Linked DNA regions of Homo sapiens. The protein of the gene in region 1 purifies or fractionates together with the protein of each later gene. This does not show direct contact. Each region holds a gene or a part of one and is shown in the gene's direction. Other genes may lie near its edges.

The links.
Region 2: the proteins of STK17A (region 1) and SDAD1 purify together in Homo sapiens (affinity purification with mass spectrometry, with the first as the bait; one large-scale study listed by BioGRID). This does not show direct contact.
Region 3: the proteins of STK17A (region 1) and GPATCH2 purify together in Homo sapiens (affinity purification with mass spectrometry, with the first as the bait; one large-scale study listed by BioGRID). This does not show direct contact.

What each region holds. Positions count from the first base shown.
Region 1 is NC_000007.14:43,589,511-43,593,166, forward strand, and holds part of STK17A (serine/threonine-protein kinase 17A), read left to right. Parts: intron 1-3,656.
Region 2 is NC_000004.12:75,956,377-75,960,032, reverse strand, and holds part of SDAD1 (protein SDA1 homolog), read left to right. Parts: intron 1-2,091; coding exon 2,092-2,186; intron 2,187-2,324; coding exon 2,325-2,515; intron 2,516-2,623; coding exon 2,624-2,708; intron 2,709-3,656.
Region 3 is NC_000001.11:217,613,973-217,617,628, reverse strand, and holds part of GPATCH2 (G patch domain-containing protein 2), read left to right. Parts: intron 1-3,426; coding exon 3,427-3,488; intron 3,489-3,656. UniProt on the Homo sapiens protein: Enhances the ATPase activity of DHX15 in vitro.

The sequences.
Region 1 (3,656 bases):
TATTTGGAATCCCTTCAATAAATGGGATTCTCTTTACCAAAAAAGGCAGCTCAACCTTCTGTCCAACTATAACTCCTACCACATTACACAGTACTATAACTGGTACCACATTTACACAGTACCTATATTAAAAATCTAAAAGTCATCCATGACTTTCACCTTTCCTTTCTCCTCTCATCTCTGCGTACAACTCACACCTGCCAGGGAGTGCTAATAAATCTTGACTTTGAGTGTCTTTTAAACATATTCTCTCTTCCCAGTCCCTACGCTGGTACTTGAGTGCAGACCTACTGCTTTGAATTATTTTATTGGCCTCTCTGTTTCTAGTTATCACTGGCAATCCACTCTTCACAACACTATTAGAATTACCTGTTTTGTTTTATTTTATTTTATAATTTTATTTTAATTTTATTTAATTTTAATTTTAATTTTATTTTATTTTATTTTATTTTATTTTATTTGAGACAGGGTCTCATTCTGTTGCCCAGGCTAGAGTACAGTGGCATGATCTCGGCAGCCTAGATGTCCCAGGCTCAACTGATCCTCCCATCCCAGCATCTCAAGTGCCAGGACCACAGGTGCACACAACCACGCCTGTCTAATTTTTGTATTTTTTGTAGTGACAAGATTTCGCCACGTTGCCCAGGCTGGTCTCGAACTCCTGGGCTCAAGCAATCCGCCTACCTCAGCCTCCGAAAGTGCTGGTATTACAGGCATGAGCCACCGTGCCCAACCAGAATTATCTTTTCTAAACAATTATTTTCAGTATTCTAATAGGTTCCAGTTTTAAGCCTGATGAAGCCCAAACTCCTTAGCAAACATACCTACCTAAAGATACTCACCCTGTCTCCCTAAGCAGTGTTTTTAGGCACTGATAATGCAAAGGACTTAGGGAGCTCGGACTGGTGGGTCTCAATCAAATGTCACCTCCTCTTGTTATAATTGTTTATGTATCTTACCTTTCCCACCTCTCTGGAATATGTTTTCAGTGAGTAGTTCTGAAATGTATTCATTTCTGATATTCATCCCAAAATATTTAATGAAAACCTAAGTTCTCAGTTTTGTACCTATTAGCAAAATATAGATGTTTTTGAAATGAAAAAATATACCTGAAAATTATGGCAACTGTTTATTCCAGGAAGAAGTTTGGCTTTTGAGTCAACAAAAAAAGTAGATGTGCAACAAACATCTTATGCCCTTTGGACCTCATCAGCCCCAAGAGAGCTGTATATAACCATGGCCCATAATGTCAGGGAAACATCATTTTTAAAATGTTTTGTAGAGGACTCAATAACCTAAAGTTAAAGGTTGAGGTACAGTCACAATTTTTACCATAAAGTCATGGTAAAATATGCATGTTGGAGCCCTTTTGAGGTATGGAATTTAGGGAACTCTGTCAATGTAATTCTGAGCATATACACTGGGACTTTGCAGCTTGAATGCTGAATCTCCTGTTTTCTTTATACAATGTGGCTGTGTAGAACAGCTCCAAGAAATCCGTTATTATCTTCTCTGACTCCTCCTTGAGTGGTTTGAAGGGTCCCCCTCCCATTGCACCAGTCATTTAGAGATGAAGGCATGCATGCTTCCTCAAATCATTGCGACCTGCTGTCATAATGTCAGTTTCAGTGGTATGTGGTATTAGAATGATGGAAGAGTTTTATTCAGCATAGGATAGAGCAGGGGTCAGCAAACTACAGCCAGCCACCTATTTTTGAAAGCCTTGCAAGCTGTTTTTACATTTTTTATGTTTTACATTTTTTAATAGTTAAAAAAATTAGAATAAGAGTAATATTTAATAACATGAAAAGCTTATGAAATTAAATTTCAGTGTAAAAGGTTCATTGGAAGCCAAACATACCCATTCATTTACCTTTCTTGTATGGCTGCTTTTGTTCTGCAACAGTGGACTTGAGTCATTGCTGCAGAGACCCTCTGGTCCACAAAGCCAAAAATATTTACCATCTTGCTTGCCCTTCACAGAAAAACTTGCTGACCCTAGTATAGTACAGGATATGTTGGAAAGAAAAGAATAAATCTAGAACTGTGAGGAATGTTTCCAGAAAAACAAAGGTGGTGTCAGTGTAGTCATTGATATGAAAGGAGAGCCGTGGGAACTGCATTCTAGCACCTAAAGGAATGGGTGAGGAGCATGAGCAACAGATGAATAAGTATGGGGAAGAGGCCCCAGAATTTAGCAATGGCTGTTCTGTAACAGGGCTCCCACAGTTCACAGGTTAGCAATGTGTGTGAGTCCGTGTTTAATTTGCCCTGTTAAATTCTAACTTCTAGGTTTTGATCTTTCATTCTAGACTACTGACATAATTTTGAGTTCCAATTCTGTTTGCTGAATTAGCTGTCTTTCCATTTGGTCTTTAAAAATAGACTTTCAGGCTATGTAATAAGTAGTTTTTTACTTACTGCACAGTACTTTATTGCTTTGAATGTCAGGTGTGGCAACAGTAAACATTTGTGTGTGTGATATGTGTTTGAGGGCCGTTCTACTGAGTCATTTCTAATTTACCAGGAACATGTTTGCTGCCAATTATATGTTGAGACTTCATTTCAGACGAATTTTTTACAAATTAAACTTTCTCTTCTCTTGAAACTTCAGACATGTAGGTATGAAAATATCAAATTAATAACAATTGTTTTCTGTCTTAAAAGAATTCAGAGATCATTGGGAACCTTTTAAAACTTGATGGAGATGTTAGCCTAATGATTTTGTGGGATAAAATGAAAGGTATTAATTACTCTTTGAGGAATTCATTTATAGTTACTCTCTCCCATATCTGTAGAAGTCTTTCATATTTCTGTGAACAAAAGAACTTTTATCTGAATAAGGGTGCTGCTAGGTAGGTTGTTACCAAATTGAACAGCCATAGGGCTATGCTTAAGGATTTGTCATTCCACATTTATATTACTAATGATAAAAACATGGAGGACATGAAAATTATATTTGCAGTTAACAATAGCTGGGAAGGAAGAATTACTCAAAATTATGTCAGTAGTCTAGAATGCTAGATCAAAGCCTAGAAGTTAGAATTTAACAGGGCAGGCCAGGCATGGTGGCTCATGCCTACAATCCCAGCATTTTGGGAGGCCGAGGTGGGTGGATCACTTGAGGCCAGGAGTTCGAGACCAGCCTGGCAAACATGACGAAACCCCATCTGTACTAAAAAAAAAAAAAAAAAAAAATCAAAAAATTAGCTGGGCATGATGGTATGTGCTTGTAATTCCAGCTATTCAGGAGGCTGAGGCATGAGAATTGCTTGAACCCGAGAAGCGGAGGTTGCAGTGAGCCGAGATCGTGCCACTGCACTCCAGCCTGGGTGACAGAACGAGACTGTGTCTCAAAAACAACAACAAAAAAGAATTTAACAGGGCAATTAAAGCCTTGCACTTAATTTTTTAGAAAGCTTTTTAAAAAAATAGATTCAGGGGTACAAGTGCATTTGTGTCACATGGATATATTGGGTCATGGTGAAGTCTGGGCTTTTAGTGTGCTCATCACCTAAATAGCGTACATTGTACCCAATAGGTAGTATTTAATTCCTCACCCCCTTCCCACTCTCTTACTGTTTGGTCTGTTTTTCCACTCTATGCCTGTGTATCCATTTAGTTCCCACTTAAAAGTGAAAACAGGCAGTTTTTTA
Region 2 (3,656 bases), on another chromosome or scaffold:
ACACTCCTGCAGTATCTGTGCAGACCTTTAAATTGTATACTATTTGAACATTCATTCAGCAGATATTTATTGAGCAATGACTATGTGCCACGCACTGTTAGAAGTATGGGGGATCAATTGAGCATGGTTCCTCCTCTTGCGGAACTTATGTTCTAGCATAGGAAATGCCTTTTCATGACCTTCGGGGTGGCTGCCGCTCATCCAAGGGCATGCTGTTTGGTGCTTGAGAAAGACAATGATCTTGTGTTTGTTGCCTAGAAAAAATTACGGGGGTTAGCCCTTAGAGGAATCCCCCAAAATTCTCCTTGTTGAAGGAGAATGCATGTTGAATTTGTGGGCAAATACTCGAGGAACTCCATTCTAATTTCCAGAGTCGTGTATTCTTCCTGTCCATTCATTCATTATTCAGCAAATCTTTTTTTTTTTTCCTCACGTTGGAGTCTCGCTCTTGCCCAGGCTGGAGTGCAGTGGTACGATCTCAGCTCACTGCAACCTCCATCTCCCAGGTTCAAGCGATCCTCCTGCCTCGGCATCTTGAGTAGCTGGGATTACAGGCGTGTGCAGCCATGCCTGACTTATTTTTTTATTTTTAGTAGAGATAGGGTTTCACCATGTTGGCCAGGCTGGTCTTGAACCCCTAACCTCAGGTGATCCTCCCATTTTGGCCTCCCAAAGTGCTGGGATTACAGGCGTGAGCCAGTGCACCCAGCCTATTTGATCAAAGCCCTCTTAAGCATTTGTTGTGAGCCAGCCACTGCCAATGCAAAGATGAATGGTATTATTTCTGCTCTAGAGGGCTTCCAAAGGGCTGAAGAATGAAGTGTTAACAGGATTTATGATTGGAGTGGGTGGGGGCATAAGGGCAGGAGAGCAGTCAGGTCCACCTCGGAAGTTTTTTTTTAGGTTTTTTTTTTTTTTTTTTTTTTTTTTTTTTTGAGACAGAGTCTTGCTGTGTCGCCCAGGCTGGAGTACAGTGGCGTGATCTCGGCTCACGGCAAGCTCCACCTCCTGGGTTCACGCCATTCTCCTACCTCAGCCTCCCGAATAGCTGGGACTACAGGCGCCCGCCACCACACCTAGCTAATTTTTTGTATTTTTTAGTAGAGACGGGGTTTCACCGTTTTAGCTAGGATGGTCTCAATCTCCTGACCTTGTGATCCGCCCGCCTCAGCCTCCCAAAGGGCTGGGATTACAGGCGTGAGCCACTGCACCCGGCCTTTTTTTTTTTTTTTTTAAAGGGCTTTGGAGAGATGGTGACTGATGAGCCAGGTATTTGGCAAGGAATGCTAGAATAGCAGAGACTTTCCAGGCAAAGTGTGAGCAAAGTCTTGAAGGATTTAGGGAACTAACTATTAGAATGTAGGATACAAGATGGAACATAGAAAGACAGGAGGCTTGAGATAGAGTTTGGTGACCTTTTCATACTTGGTTATGTATATGCCAGACAAAAGAGCTGGCACGTTCTCTTAAAGATCATAGGGAGTCATGGAAAGATTGCAGTGTCTGTGATTTAGAAAATTTAAACTGTGGTGGCTCCATTAAGAAGCCTGATACCTTTTTATTGAGGTGTCTTCAGGATTCTTTAACATCCCAAATATTCTACCTCAGTTGTCTGAATGACTAACTAGATTCTCATACGTGGGTAACACGCATAGGACAAATTAGATGCCTGCTGCGTGGCCAGGATAAATGTACAAGTGCAGTTTTGATGGACACAGTTGGTTTAGTTGAAAGAACATGACCCTAAAGGTAGACATGATTTTCATGATTTCAGTGTAGGATGCCTTTTTAGCGGTGTGGCTTGGGGCACATTACTAAACTCTGAGCATCTGTTCCTTTTCTTTGGAGTTATGAGGGTTAGAGAGAGTGATTGTAAGGTTTTGACTCATGGTAGATACTTGATCAGTGCCTATTTCCTATTCCTTAGATTAACTAAAGGCACATTGTTTATTTAACAATAAATATTGCTCAGTTCTTGGTTAATAATGTATCTGTTCAAGGTTCATTACTTTTCTGTTGCTTGCTTCATCTCAACTTTATGTTGAATGTGCAACATAAAATGGCAGTAGTGGGTTTGCTTTTTTCACGCAGATGGATGGGAAAGTACCAGTCTCAGTGAGGAGGAGGATGCTGATGGTGAATGGATTGATGTGCAACACTCTTCCGATGAAGAACAGCAAGAAATCGTAAGTCTGAAAATTTCATCTTATAACCTGGTGTTTATTAAGACGTAATTTATTCTGGGCCTTGTTGGGAGGCTACAATTTAAATGGCTGAGCTCTCACTTGAGCTGGTAGCCATTTAAGCCCTTGTGTGGTTTCAAGTCCAAGAAGCTGAACAGCATGCCCATGGAGGAGCGGAAGGCCAAAGCTGCAGCCATCAGCACTAGCCGAGTTTTAACTCAGGAAGACTTCCAGAAAATCCGCATGGCCCAAATGAGAAAAGAACTTGATGCTGCCCCCGGGAAATCCCAGAAGAGGAAATACATTGAAATAGACAGTGATGAAGAGCCCAGGTAAAATGGCACATCCACTTTAGTACTTCAGTCAGCTCATGTGGTAATGAAAGCATCAGGAAACAGAATTCCATTCTTGTTTCATGTGTTATTTTTCCCTCACCCCAGGGGTGAATTACTTTCTCTTCGGGACATTGAACGCCTTCATAAAAAGCCAAAGTCTGACAAAGAGACAAGACTAGCAACTGCAATGGTGAGTGAGCATATCATTCCTAGTTTTTTAAACAGAAAGCAAATAAAATGAAACATAAGCCAGAACTTGTATAGCCACAGAATGGCAATTTTTAAAAATGTTTTAAATAAAGGTATAATTAACACAGAAATTAAAATGCACAGATATTAGATGTTCAGTTAGATGAGGGGTTTTGTTTGGGTTTGCTTTTGTTAGTATGTTTGTTTGTTTGTTTTTTGCGACAGTCTCTCTCTGTCACCCAGGCTGTAGTGCAGTGGCACAATCTCAGCTCACTGCAACCTCTGCCTCCTAGGTTCAAGCGATTCTCCTGCTTCAGCCTCCTAAGTAGCTGGGGTAACAGGTGTCTGCTACCACGCCCAGCTAATTTTTGTATTTTTAGTAGAGTCAAGGTTTCGCCATGTTGGCCAGGCTGGTCTCAAACTCCTGGCCTCATGCGATCCACCCGCCTCAGCCTCCCAAAGTGCTGGGAGTATAGGCATGAGCCATTGCGCCCAGCCAGTTAGATGAGTTTTGACAACTGTATATAGCCATGTAACCACCACTCAAAACAAGGTAGAGAGCACAGGAAGGCAGTATTACATGTCTGTATTGTCAGGAAGCCACTATATTTATCAAAGCTAAGAGAAAAGTAGGAATGTGTTTACAGTCACCAGTGAAAAGCCAGAGCCAGTTGGAGTCTGCCTGTGGCTAGTGCTGTGGCTGCTCATGTCTGTGTCCTGCCTACATTTCCAACATCATTTTCTGTATCTCCACTTGTTTGAGACACTGTCCCCTCCTAGTTCCACCTCATCCTCTGTCTTCCATGTGTCCTTTCTCCTCCACACCTTTGTGTGCACTGTCCCTTCTTCCGGAAATGCTCTGTCTTTCCCCTCCTTTCCCTTACCATGAATGCCTTCATCCTGCAAAAAAAAAAAAAACAAAAAAAAAACAGTCTACCTGTCTCCCTTT
Region 3 (3,656 bases), on another chromosome or scaffold:
TACTTCCAAAGCTTTCCTACTACAAAAAGCTTTATATTTCCTTGGGGTTGATTTATAAATAAGAGAAACTTCAGTGTGGGGGGCTGTGTGTGTGTGTCAGATTTAACAAACATTGATGATTAACTACAATTTACTCTTCACTGGTGGCACCTGGACTAATAATGGAGACTCTGTTCTCAACAGCTGCATAGTCTGGGATAGCCAGGCAAGCAAATGATGAAAATGAAATGTGCTGAGTGGAAAGTATTAGTGAGGGAAGACTTGCTAAGGGAACTGTGCTTTAAAGCAAGTAGTAAGACTTGTTCAGGAATTGAGGAAGTCAAGAGAAGAGAGGGAAATGGCATTCATAGGTAGAGAGGGAGCAGCTTGTGCAAAGGCATGAATTGTGAAATGAAAATACATACTTTGTTTTTACCGGCAATAAAGTGGGATCAGAATTACAGCAAAAAGCATTTCTCAGAGGTCTATCTGCTATGGTAAATAGTTTGGATTTTATCATCTTATAGTCAATGGGATCAGTGAAGAATTTTTAACAGTGAAGAAACTCAAGTTGATTTACATTTTTTCAAGATAGTGTGATCTTTATAGCTGTATTTTGGTATTTTGTTTATCTTTGACCTCCAATCCATGCTTAAGTGGGAAGTGAATTACGATATGATAGCAGAGAGAACTAAGTATTTGAGAGTATTTGAGACCAATTTTAAGAGTTAGAATCGATGGGAGGTTGACTGACTATTTGGGAGGATGAATGAGAAAGAGGACTCTACGGAAAATATAGGAATTGAACAAATTGGGGCAAGTGATTGATATTAGTGTACATATATTTGTTCATCCAGCATATGTGGAATATATTCTCATCCAAATACCGTGTTATAAAATTCACTCTAAAAAGGTGAATCTCCAAGGAAAGGGTGTCTTTGGAGATAAGCCGTAATGACTGTCAGCTGCTGAAAATAAAAGGCTTGTTTCTATTTAAGTTCTTGTTCTGATTTATTGAACATAGAAACACGTACATAATGTACACGGAACAACTCTAGATACCAATGAGGTGAAATGTAAATCAAGAAACATGTTGTATACATGCATGCCAACATACCTCAAAGTAGGACAAGGATCATTAAGGACTCAGAGCTGGAAGAGAGGGAATTCTGATTTCCTTATATCTTCAAGAGCTTGGACAGGTGGAGAGGGAAGAGAGTGGAGATAGGCATACCACTGGGAAAAGAACATAAACAAAAGGACCAGAGATGGGAATAAGAAGAATTTAGATGGAGGCCCATCCATAGAAAGTCTTGAAATCTAAATTTAATTCAACAAGTTTTGAAGTAATTTTAAATTTTTAAATAGAAGACTGTTCTATAATGTACACGTGTGTGTATGTGTGTGTGCATAGTTTATCAACTACTTTCTTTGGAATAGATGTAAATTTACAGAAAAGTTGTAAAGATAGTTCAGAGAGTTCATGTAAATCACATTCCCATATATCCCAAATCCACTTTCTCCTGTTGTTAATATTGTACATTACTATGGTTAATCTCTCACAATTAATGAAACAAAATTGATATATTTGTAAGTAAAGTTCATAGTTTATTAGAATTTCCTTTGCTGTTATTTAATGTCCTTTTTTGGTTTCAGAATATCACATTACTTTTAGTCAACTTGTTTTATTTTGAAAAGATGAACCTGGCTGTATGTAGAATAGATTAGAGAGGGGTAAATCTGAATTCAGATTAGAAGATCATGGTCTAGAAAAAATAGCACATCAATTCATAATGCTTTGTCTGCAAATCTGAACTCTGAAAAGCTATGAAAAACTAATTCACTTGTGGCCAAATTTAATTTGACCTGTACTTAATGTGGATATTCATTCATTTAATTGAAGAAATATATTAATCTGTTTTATGGAGTACTATCCCAGACTCCTCCGAGGCATTTTAGAATATACCTTGCTAAAATTTGAGTAATTCAGAATTTTAAATACATTTTGCCTCAAGGGTTTCAGAAAAGGAACTGTGACCTGAGGTGTATATGAGACCCTTCATTTGAGTTGTGTTAATGGGGGGCACACAGGAAAGAGGAAAGTATCAATAGTAGTTTAGACAGCGAAATGTCAGAAAGATAGTTTCTGAGGTGATTTTAACACTCTCACATTATAGTGCATAGAAGAGCATATATATTTGTAAATAAGAAAATTTGGTTGTGATGCTCTTAGAAAATATTTTTTCATTACCAATTGTACAATATAGGGAGCTTTGTACATGCACTTAATTTGGAAGAAAGCTAGAGAGAGGTCTAAATTCAGAACTCCTTGGAAGAATGTGCCTCTTAAGAAATTCCTATATTCTTCATTAATATTTATTTTTTAAGAAATCGAACAGAAACAAATTATATTCAGAAAATGTATGTGAATTTAGATCTCATCTATAATTTTAATCCTAAACTTCTCAATTTAAATATTTTAAAACAAGTTAGGATGCCTTATTAAAAAATAAGATTATGGAATTCTACATATTAATGGAAAAAGTATTTTAATTAAAAAAAGGGATGATTTCCTGATTGGTTAAAATTAAGAATTACAGTAAAAATAAAATACATGAGAATTTTTAAAGAACATCACTAAATTTTCTTTAAAAGCTAAGCCTCTCATTATATTATATGACTTTGTTCTCCTGGTATTTTAAACTAGACTGTCATATAAGCATTACTTCTATTAGAATAGTAACAGTTTGTTTATGTTATTCAAATATCTGCTATTTGTTTTATTTGTATGTTAGATTTGACTCTGGAGCTTCTGTGGGAATATATGTACACACTCCCTCCTTAATATTTGTAATATTATTTTTTTTTTTTTTTTGCTTAAAAGTGACCTTAACTTCGATATAATGGATTATCACCGTTTTAAACTTTTTATTCCTTGCAAACTAATAGAGTTGTTGTGAATTCTTAAGTAATGTCTTCTCCAGAATATTTGTAAATGTGGTTATGAAAAGTAATCTCATCCTAGTCCTTTGTATTTCATGTGCTGAGGAAAGGCTTAGCCTGCTTTTGATTGAGACTTTTCCCATTTTATTGAGCAGTGGTGTTCCAGGCTCAAGCTGAATTGCATGACGTAAGAAAGGAGCAGTGAGCATTTGATGAAAGTACATGATAAAATGCATCAATTGTGTCAGCATCTCGTTGCAGTCACATCTGGCTTACTGTCAGGGTCCCATTAGATTCCTGTGGTTTTATGTGCCAAAAATAATATGCTCTGTAGTGAATGGAACCAGGATATTAGCAGTTTGATTAAAAAAAAAATCATCTTATTTTCTTTCAGATCTTTGTCAGGCTTAAGTTCCATCTCTGAGCTGCCATGTCTCTTTAAAATTTTACGACTGAGAGATCAATTGTTCTTTTGATCTGTTTCTTTCTTTTTCCTTATTACAGTGATTCCAGCAGTCTCAGCAGCACTGATGCTGGATTGTTTACCAATGATGAGGGAAGACAAGGTACTGAAATGATATTTTTTTCTCTCTTTGGAAAAACTTCTTCATTCTAAAGTGGAGCTTATTACTGGTTATTTCATAAGTTGATGACTGCAATCCATTTACCTTACACATATTACTTAGTGAACTAGGATTTAGTATCGTAGCTGGTTTTTTATATGCTATGGAGGG